2 separate regions of the Homo sapiens genome follow, and region 2 is linked to region 1. The links come from fine-mapping of genetic effects on gene expression. A gene starts in region 1. The other region holds a variant in brackets. All regions are shown on one strand. Distances are between the middles of the regions. Region 1 holds the start of BRAF (B-Raf proto-oncogene, serine/threonine kinase). Region 2 has its middle 11 kb from the start of MRPS33.

The links. PIP is the estimated chance that this variant, and not a neighbour inherited with it, causes the effect. A credible set is the group of variants that fine-mapping cannot tell apart.
Region 2: its variant is the best candidate, but not a certain one, in a credible set for the expression of BRAF in subcutaneous fat (FUSION, PIP 0.57).

The regions. Positions count from the first base shown.
Region 1 is chr7:140,922,197-140,927,579 of GRCh38, forward strand. BRAF (B-Raf proto-oncogene, serine/threonine kinase) reads right to left here and starts at 2,733. Exons shown (of 18, transcript NM_004333.6): 1 at 2,370-2,733. The coding sequence starts at 2,507. LOC105375536 (a long non-coding RNA gene) reads left to right here and starts at 2,896. Exons shown (of 5, transcript XR_002956518.2): 1 at 2,896-4,306; 2 at 4,875-4,993. RefSeq lists a silencer at 2,556-2,625.
Region 2 is chr7:141,023,072-141,028,454 of GRCh38, forward strand. No RefSeq gene overlaps it. Among named protein-coding and RNA genes, the nearest start is that of MRPS33, 11 kb to the left of the region's middle. RefSeq lists a silencer at 1,784-1,984. The variant G/GT (reference allele first, on the strand shown) is at 2,669.

The sequences.
Region 1 (5,383 bases):
ACCAAGTAAAATGAGAGTATCCTTATAGTTTCAGAAGATATGAATATGCTTTCCAATTACTGGCAATTTATACTTAAATTCAGCTAGCCTAGAGGTTCTCAAGGATTGGTACATGGGAACTGCTCAAGACATGTGCCAAATACAGAAATCCATGGCCCTCGCTCTCACTTACTAAATCAGACTCTTCAGGGGGTACAGTTCCAAACAATCTGGCCCTTTCAAATAAAATAGAAGGGTAGAGATTTTACTTCACAAAAGCCTTCTTTACAGAATTGCAAACGGTTCTAATAACTCTGCAGCAAAGTTCCCAAGATAAACAATTTTATAATCAGAGAATTACAATTTCATAACCCCTACTTATTACTTCACTCATTGTTCCACTCTGTAGTAGTCTTCAAACAAGATACAATTCAACAAAACTACACATCTATTACAGAGTAAAATAAAATCCAGAGGCACCTGTGCCTGGTTAAGACAAAGGCATATCCGATTCCTGGAGAAAACAGACAGCAGATGTGACCCCTAGTATTTATCCATTAAAAACAATGTATCCTAAAAATAAATTTCCATGTCAAAGGAAACAAAGATGTTTATAAATAAGAAGGAACGTGGAGGTGTGGAGAAGAAAAGAGGAAGCTTCAGAAAGTTAAGTACCAAAAGCCAGGAAACAAGGCAAAATGAATGGTAACTGGAAACAAGGGAAACAGAATAAACTAGGAAATTGAAGTAGAGAAGAGCTTTCTCCTTAGAAATCAAGAAGCTGGGGGAAAGGAACAGATATGAGAGGAAACTGATCTAAGCAAAAATGCATACTGAAAAGTGGAATGATTTTAAGAAACTTAAAAATGAGAAATTTTAGAACAGATCAAATGATGGTACAGAACACATTTTGGGCATGTAACAAAGATGATATAAAGAGTAGAAAACAAACATTATCATAAACAAGCTGATGCTGAATAAAGCAAGCATATTGGATGAATTTCCAAAGATGATGATGCAAAAAAAAAATTGCAGAGAGAATGAGATGTTATGAGAATTGAGAAATTAGATGTTAATAGTAAGTAGCAAAGAGAACTTCGAGCAAAGTCAACAGAGTAAGTCACATTACCTAATCAATAACTGTAAACCACAATTATTATACCATATCTTATTTGTAAAGCATAATAAAGTATTATTTTCTGTAATAAAATACCAAATATTTGTAATAAATTTTATGTAATAAAAAAACGTAAATAATTTGACACAGTGCTAAGAGGCTGACTAATGCAAAAACAGGCTGAGAGAAGCAAGGACTGGAGAGGAAAAAGGAAAAGGAAAAAAATAGGACAAAAAGGAGGACAACACTAAGAAATCAATCAGACCTATAAAAATGGGTAGGAATAAAGAGGTGTGAATGCACAATGGACGACTAGCCAAAAAGTGCCAGTAGTGCAAGCGCGAAAAGAGCCAAGTGAAACCTGATGGAATCTTGACAGCTTCTGGGCTCAGAAAACAAGTAGCTCCAAAGTGTCCAGGAGGATTTGTGAAGATAACAACAGACAACAATGTTAGGGAGTGGTGAGATCAAGTACAGAGCCTCAAGAGGACCAGGGTAAGAGAAGTGCAAAAATGCTCTTAAGTGGGAGCTGGGGTTAGAAGGCAGGCAGGTCCGACAACTGGAAAATGAGCGGGCGGTAGATGGGAATAGAATGGGGGTTACCAATCAGCGACAGAGCGCTGACAAACATTAGGAACAGAGGACCAGAGACCAGAAAAGGCATCGGAAACTGCGATTTAGGATTGAAAAAGTAAAGACTAAATCAAAATAATTTGCTGGGTAAAACAGGTGAAGAGAAATCCCCAAATAGAAAAGTGAAAAAGGGCAGCGGACTGAGAAGGGGGGCAGTCCGGGAGAGGAGAGAGGAAATGATGAGCCCCATCATCCCCACGACCATGTAAGAATTACACGCGACAGTAACTCGGGCTGTTGTCTCAGCCCCAGCAACTAACCTATATCCTCCACGTCGAGGCCGCCGCCGCCCCCACCCCACAGAGATGCAGAGCTGGATACTTCAGCCAATCGTGACCTTCTCGGACCAACCCTGAGTTTCGCCCCCTATTGATAGCCTCCCGCTCAACCACCGCTGCCCCAATCCCCACATCTGGGGTGGGGGCCAGGGAAACCCCCCGGGCCATTGTGTGTGTTTACGTAGGAAGGCGCTGCATGACGGAGAGGGACACGGGGGCGATGCCCACCTCCCAGCCCGCGGAGCTGGCCCGAGAAGGTGGCTGAGGGCATCAAGCCCCCACCGCCGCCTCTTTCCAAAATAAACACCAGCCAGCCGCCGAGCCCGGAGTCGGGAGGGCGGCAGGGTGGCGCCAGCACTCACCTCCTCCGGAATGGCAGGGTCCGCAGCCGAAGAGGCCGCGGCGCCGGCGCCGGCGCCGGCCTCGGGCTCCATGTCCCCGTTGAACAGAGCCTGGCCCGGCTCCGCGCCGCCACCACCGCCACCGCTCAGCGCCGCCATCTTATAACCGAGAGCCGGGGCCCGAGCGGCCGCTGTCGGGCGGGGAGGGGGAAGGGAGGCGGAGAGCTGGGGGAGGCGGAGGCGGAGGCGGAGGCGGAGGAGCGGGGGGCGCGGGGGGCGCGGGGAGGAGCGGCCCGGGCGGCGCCGCGGGCGGAGGGCGCCTGGGCCACCTCAGGTACCGGCCCGCGGCCCCGGGCGCAGCCGAGCCTGAGGGGATTGGGGGAAGGACGCTAGGCGGGGGTGCGGGGGGGAGCGGGGGAAGGGGGCGGAGACGACGAGAAGTCGCCGCGGCAACGGCGTCACCCGCGTGTCACGGTCGTGACGTCACCCCGGTGCGTGACGTAATCTGAGGCGCGCCTTCGCGCCGTCGTCCGGGGAGGGTTTTTTCCCTTCTAACCACCCGCGCTCTCACACTTTGCCTCCGCTCCGCCGTTTCCATGGCTCCGGTTTCCTACTTTCCTCTTGTCTCCTCCGTCCTCAGCCTGTTCTGTAATGTGGGATTTACTAGAAGAGCAGGGCTGGTGTTCGAGGAGGAGAAGTTGAAATCCTAGAGGGAGGAAGGCGGGGAAGCCAATACTACTTGCTATTTCCACTGCAATGAACGTCTCTGTGTCATCAAAATAAGAACTTCAACCCCAAGGTTGAAACAGCCAAGCAGAATTTGATGGAAATATATTTAGGAACAGCTAAATTAGCAGTGCGACGCGTGTTTTCTTTTCATTGAAGAATTCAGCCAGTTAAAACGAGTCTAAATGGAAGTCTGAAAGCTTTTTCTTCATTGTTGAGGAATAAAATATTTCGTGTATTTTTCGTTTTCCAGATTCATTCATTTAACAAATATCAGTTGAGCACTTTCCATGCCGTAGGGCCTGTACAAGGCACATAGCATTCTAGACATCTGAAGCATCAAAACTAATCATTTTTATTTTGAAGAAAATCACTCAAAATATTTTATGTACTTTGTGCCTTTCATGAACAGAATATTCCAAGCATTCTCTGCAAAATACGCATGAAAACAATTGGGAGAGAAGAGGTCAATTATCTTTGAGAAGCCCAATTACAGAATGAAATTCAATTCATTATTAAAAATACATGGATCTAATAAAGAATAAATAATTGGAAAAGAAAAGTTTAAGGAAGAGAGAAACGGGAATGAGAAACAATTACTGTGGGCTCCCAATGGCCTGGAGTGAATCACCAAAGTAACCTAAACATGAAGTCATGAAAAACTAAGTGGATTCTGCCTTTTAGTACTTCCCATCATGGGGGAAGTCACCAGCGACCTCCTTACTGTATTTTGGATGATTCAAGAAATAGAAAGGTGTCCTACTGACTTCTGAAACAGGGTGTCTTCATATTGATTAGGGTCACCGTAAGCCTGGGAGCTGATGCTTACTCTCAGGTAAAGGATGCTGTGTGAGGCTGCTTGATGAATGAGAATACTAACATTCTTCTGCATTGAAAAAATATAACCTATAAGATGAACATTGTAGGCCGGGCGCAGTGGCTCACGCCTGTAATCCCAACACTTTGGGAGTCTGAGGCGGATGGATCACCTGAGGCCAGGAGTTTGAGACCAGCCTGGCCAACGTAGTGAAACCTCATCTCTATTAAAAGTACAAAAAATTAGCCTGGTGTGGTGGTGCACACTTGTAATCCCAGCTACTCAGGAGCCTGAGGCAGGAGAATCATTTGAACCTGGGAGGCAGAGGTTGCAGTGAGCCGAGATTGCACCACTGAACTCCAGCCTGGGCAACAGAGCCAGACTCTGTCTCCAAAAAAAAAAAAACATGAACATGGTATGCTTTGTTAACTTCATTGTACATTCTCCTCCAAGTAGGAAAGTTTCTATGAGGAAATAAATTTAAATCAAAAAGTGGCTTGGCAAATGTAGAGTAAATGATCACAAGGGATGATGTCATCAAGCTAAACTAATCTGAAGCACCCTTTACTATAAGGACATACTTAGAAGCAGACTGAAATAGCACCATTAGCCAGTCATGGCACCTTTTCCCCTTTCATCACCCTTTCATCACCCTTTCATCAGAAACACAACTGGCAAGATTTTTGTTAATTCTCTAACTGTCCTATTTCATTTTTAAAAAATTAGCTGCTAAAAATGTTATATCATTATAACACTTCCTTATAACATTAAAAGTTTTAAAGGCTTTTATCCTCACATTGGTTCCATTTTGAATTCTAGCCTTATTTGTCAGTATCAGTCTGTAGTTCAGATCTTCCATGATTATTTCTCCACAGGATGACTGGTCTCATCCATTTAATATTGATTCTTCTTAGCGTTCTACTCATTTGACATTTTCTGACCTTGCCTTAAAATTCTGGATATATCCTGTTTTACTTCCTTAGGCCATTCTAAAGTCCTACAGTATCCAGATGAGAAACGAGAGAAAGCATAAGCTTTGGAGTCCAAAGATCAGGATTTTAGCGTCAGCACTCCACACCTTAGCTATACAATCTCAAAGCAGGTAAGCTTAAATCCCTGTTTGTTGTTTTGTTTTTTAATCTATAAAATGAAGGTTATAATAATGCTAGCCCAACCTGCCAAACTATCATTGTGAGGATCAAACATTATACTTTCACCCTTTGAAAAATATAAAATTACCCTCTCAGTCAGAATTCAGACAAGGCATAGCAAAGATGGCTTATCTCTGCTCCATGATGTCTGGGGCTTCAGCTGGGAAGACTCAGTGCCTGGGGGTGTCTCAATGGTTGAAGACTGAAATCCTTTGGAGGCATATTTTCTGACATGGCTGGTGGTTGAAGCTGGGACCTCAGATAGGGCAGTCAGCCAGAATACCTAAATCTACTCTTCATGTGGCCTGAGCTTCCTCCTAGCATGGCTGCCTCAGAGTAGT
Region 2 (5,383 bases), 100 kb after region 1:
TTTTGCATCTATATTCATCAGGGATATTGATCTGTAGTTTTCTTTTTCTTTCTTTCTTTTATTTTTTGGTAAGTCCTTTCCTGGTTTTGGCATTAGGGTAACACTGGCTTCATAGAATGATTTAGGGAGGATCCTCTCTTTCTCTATCTTTTGGAATGGTTTCAGTAGGATTGGTACCAATTTTTCTTTGAATGTCTGATAGAATTTAGTTATGAACCCATCTGGTCCTGGACCCTTTTTTTGTTGGCAATTTTAAAATTACTGTTTCAACCTCATTACTTGGTTTTGGTCTGTTTAGAGTTTCTATTTCTTCCTGATTTAATCTACAAAGGTTGTATTGATTTTGTCTTTTCAAAGAACCAGCTTTTTGTTTCTTTTATCTTTTGTGTATGTGTGTTTTTTTGTTTCAGTTTCATTTAGTTCTGCTCTGATCTTTGTTATTCATTTTCTTCTACTGGGTTTGGGCTTGGTTTGTTCTTGTTTCTCTAATTCTTTGAGATGTGAGCTTAGATTGTCAGTTTGTGCTCTTTCAGACTTTTTGATGTAGGCATTTAATACTCTGAACTTTCCTCTTAGCACCGTTTTGCTGTATCCCAGACATTTTGATAGGTTGTATCACTATTATCATTCAGTTCAAAGAATTTTTTAATTTCCATCTTGATTTCATTGTTGACCCAAAGATCATTCAAAAGCAGATTATTTAATTTCCATGTATTTGTTTTGTTTTGAGGGTTCCTTTTAGAGTTAATTTCCAATTTTATTGCACTGTGATCTGAGAGAGTACTTGATATGATTTCAGTTTTCTTAAATTATTGAGACTTGTTTTGTGGCCTATCTTATGGTCTATCTTGGAGATTGTTCCTTGTGCTGATGAAAGTAATGTATATTCTGCAGTTGGGTAGAATGTTCTGTAAATATCTGTTAAGTGCATTTGTTCTAGGGTATAGTTTAAGTCCATTGTTTCTTTGTTAACTTTCTGTCTTGACTTGTTTAGTGCTGCCAGTGGAGTACTGAAGTCTTCCACTGCTATTGTATTGCCAGCTATCTCATTTCTTAGGTCTAGTAGTGATTGTTTTATAAATTTAGAAGCTCCAGTTTTAGGTGCATATATATTAAGGATTGTGATATTTTCCTGTTGGACTAATCCTTTTATTTTTATATAATAATCCCTCTTTGTCTTTTTAAACAGTTGTTGCTTTATAATCTGTTTTGTCTGATATAAGAAAAGCTAATCCTGCTCCCTTTTGGTTTCCATTTGCAAGGAGTATTTTTTTCTATGCTTTAACCTTAAGTTTATGTGAGTCCTTATGTGTTGGGTGAGTCTCTTGAAGACAGCAGATATTTGGTTGGTGGATTTTTATCCATTCTGCCATTCTGTATCTTTTAAGTGGAGCATTTAGGCCATTTATATTCAACATTAGTATTGAGGTGTAAGGTACTGTTCTCTTCATCATGCTAGTTGTTGCTTGACTACCATTTTTTTCATTGAGTTATTGTTTTATAGGCCCTGTGAGATTTATGCTTTAAAGGGGTTCTATTTTGGTGTACTTCAAGGTTTTGTTTCAATATTTACAACTCCTTTTAGCATTTCTTGTAGTGCTGGCTTGGTAGTGGTGAATACTCTCAGCATTTGTTGTCTGAAAAAAACTTTATCTCTTCTTCATTTATGAAACTTAGTTTTGCCAGCTACAAAATTCTTGGCTGATAATTGTTTTGTTAAAGGAGGATAAAGATAGCATCCCAATTCCTTCTGGCTTGCAGGGTTTCTGCTGAGATGTCTGCTGTTAATCTTATAGGTTTTCCTTTATATGTTACCTGATGCTTTAGCCTCACAGCTCTTAAGATTCTTTCCCTCATCTTGACGTTAGATAACATGATGACTGTGTGCCTGTGTTATGATCTTTTTGCAATGAATTTCCCAGGTGTTCTTTGAGTTTCTTGTATTTAGATGTCTAGATCTCTAACAAGACCAAGGACATTTTCCTTGATTATTCCTTCAAATATGTTTTGCAAACTTTTGGATTTCTCTTCTTCCTCAGGAGGGCCAATTATTCTTATGTTTGGTTGCTTAACATAATCCCAAATTTCTGGAGGCTTTGTTCATTTTTTAAAATTCTTTTTTCTTTGTCTTTGTTGAATTGGGTCAGTTAGAAAGCCTTGTCTCTGAGCTCTGAAGTTCTTACTTCTACTTGTTCGATTGTATTGTTGAAATTTTCCAGTGTATTTTGCATTTCTCTAAGTGTGTCTTTCATTTCCAGATGTTGTGATTGCCTTTTCTTTATGATGTCTGTTTCTCAGGAGAGTTTTTCATCCATATCCTGTAGTGTATGTGTGTGTGTGTGTGTGTGTGTGTGTGTGTGTGTGTGTGTGTGTGTGTGTTTGAAGGAGTCTCGCTTTGTCACCCAGGCTGGAGTGCAGTGTCATGATCTTGGCTCACTGCAACCTCTGCCTCCCAGGTTCAAGCAATTCTCCTGCCTTAGCTTCCCGAGTAGCTGGGATTACAGACACATGCCACTATGCCTGGATAGTTTTTGTATTTTTAGTAAAGACAGAGTTTCCCCACATTGGCCAGGCTAGTTTTGAACTCCTGACCTCAGGTGATCCACCCACCTCGGCCTCCCAAAGTGCTGGGATTACAGGTGTGAAGGTGTGAGTCACTGCCTGACCT[G/GT]TTTTTTTTTTTTTTTTTTTGAGATGGAGTCTCACTCTGTCGCCCAGGCTGGAGTGCAGTGGCGCGATCTCGGCTCGCTGTAAGCTCCGCCTCCCAGGTTCACGCCATTCTCCTGCCTCAGCCTCCTGAGTAGCTGGGACTACAGGCACCTGCCACCTTGCCTGGCTAGTTTTTTGTGTTTTTTAGTAGAGACTGGGTTTCACCATGTTAGTCAGGATGGTCTCGATCTCCTGACTTCGTGATCCACCCACCTTGGCTTCCCAAAGTACTGGGATTACAGGCGTGAGCCACCAGGCCTGGCTTTTTTTATTTTTTAAGACAAAGTCTTGCTCTGTCACCCAGGCTGAAGTACAGTGGCATGATCTCGGCTCACTGCACCCTCTGCGTCCTGGGCTCAAGCGATTCTCCTGCCTCAGCCTCCTGAGTAGCTGGGATTACAGTTGCCCATGACCACACCTGGCTAATTTTTGTAGTTTTAGTAGAGCAGGGTTTCACCATGTTGGCCAGGCTGGTCTCGAACTCCTGACTTCAGATAATCTTCCCACCTTGGCCTCCCAAAGTGCTGGGATTACAGGCATGAGCCACCATGCCTCCCCCGGCCTGTTTTTTTTAAAAAAAATTTCTTCAAATTGGTTTTTACCTTTCTCTGTTACCTCCTTGAGTAGCTGGATAATCAACTGTCTGCATTCTTTATCTGGCAATTTAGAGATTCTTCTTGGTTTGGATCCATTGCTGGAGAGCTAGTGTGATCTTTTGAGTGTGTGATAGAACCTTGTTTTGTAATATTACCAGACTTACTTTTCTGTTTCTTTTTCATTTGGGCAGACTGTTTCAGTGGAAAGATCTGGAACTCAAGGGCTGCTGTTCAGGTTCTTTTGTCCCACAGGGTAATTCCTTGATGTGGTGCTCTCCCCCTTCCCCTAGGAATGGGGCTTCCTGAGAGCTAGACTGCAGTGATTGTTATTGCCCTTCTGAGCCCTGGGCTGGTGCTAGGCAATGTCTGCAAAGAGTCCTGTGATATGATCCATCTTCAAGTCTCCCAGCTGTGGATACCAGCACCTGCTCTGGTGGAGGTGGCAGGGGAGTGAAGTAGACTTAGACTCAGTTAAAGTCCTTGGTTGTAGTTTTGTTTAGTGTGCTGGTTTTCTCGAATGCTGGTTATGCTAGCAGTGAAGTTGTCACACAGATAGACTCGGGACCTCTGGTTGGCCAGGATGTTGCAGGTGGTGGAATTAGCTATTGTTTTCTCCTTCTTTGGAGCAGGATTGTTCTCTTATGAGTTGCTGTAATGGCTTGAGTTGGTTGGCCTCCAGCCAGGAGGTGGTGCTTTCAAGAGAGCCCCACCTGCAGTAGTAGAAGGGGGATATAAGCTTGCCCTACATTTGCCAGATAAGTAATCGGCTTTCTCAGGTCATGGGTGGGGCCATAGAGCTCCCACGAGTTTATGTCTTTTGTCTTTGGCTGCCAGGGTGGGTAGAGAAAAACCATCAGGAGGGGGCAGTGTTAGGCGTGTCTGAGCTCAGACTCTCCTTGGGCAGAACTTGCTGTGCCACTGTGGGGGATAGGGGGATGCTTCTCAGGCCAATAGAATTATGTTCCCAGGGGGATTGTATTTGTCTCTGCTGCATCATTACAGGTCACCAGGGAAGTGGGGAAAGCCAGCAGTGACAGGCCTCACCCAGCTCCCATAGCCAGCAAAGCTATTCTCACTCCCTTTGTGCCCCACCAACAGCACTAAATTTATATCCAGACAGCTGGCAAGCAGGGCTGAGATCTTGCTCCAGGCTACTAGCCTCCCCAGTGAGAAAGCAAGCAGGGCCCTCAGGACTTGCTCCTCCCCACCTGCCCGCACGATCTCAGCTCACTGCAACCTCTGCCTCCTGGGTTCAAGTGATTCTCCTGCCTCAGCTTCCCAAGTAGCTGGGACTACAGGCACGCACCACCACACCCAGTTAACTTTTGTATTTTTAGTAGAGACGCAGTTTTACTGTGTTGGCCAGTCTGGACTTGAACTCCTGACCTCAGGTGGTCCACCTGCCTCAGCCTCCCAAAGTGCTGGGATTACAGACGGGAGCCACCATGCCCAACCATTATGTAGTTTTAATCAAAGTTATGGATACAGGAAAGCAAAGTTTTCTTCTGGTGGTACATACTACTACAAATAACCTTTTCTTCCTTTTTGTTTCTGTTACTCCCTTCTCATATATTTGTTGCATACTATTTTATACAAAGAAGTTGATTAGTAAAAGAGAAATAAAACTTAGCAATGTAGGAAAAATTATCTTATCAAATGAATTTAAATACATTTTCTCTTACATCAGCACAGTTAAAAATGTCAATTTTTTGTGAAAGGATTTAACAGTGCATAGATATATAAAGACATATTATCAAAGAGTTTTTGCATCCCCCCAGGTCCTTTATTTCCTATGTTCCCTCAGTTTCTTGTTTCAAGACTTACAACCATAGAACTCCATTTACCCTCCACCCTTTATATGCTAGTGTTGTCTTAAGTATTACATCTGCATATATTAGAACTCTTACCAGGGGATGTGATAATTTTTGCTTTCAACAGTCTATTTTAATAGTCTCATCTATTTTAAATAAATTAAAAGGGCCAGCCATGGTGGGTCATGCCTGCAATCCCAGCACTTTAGGAGGCTGAGGCAGGTGGATCACCTGAAGTCAGGAGTTTGAGACCAGCCTGGCCAACATAGT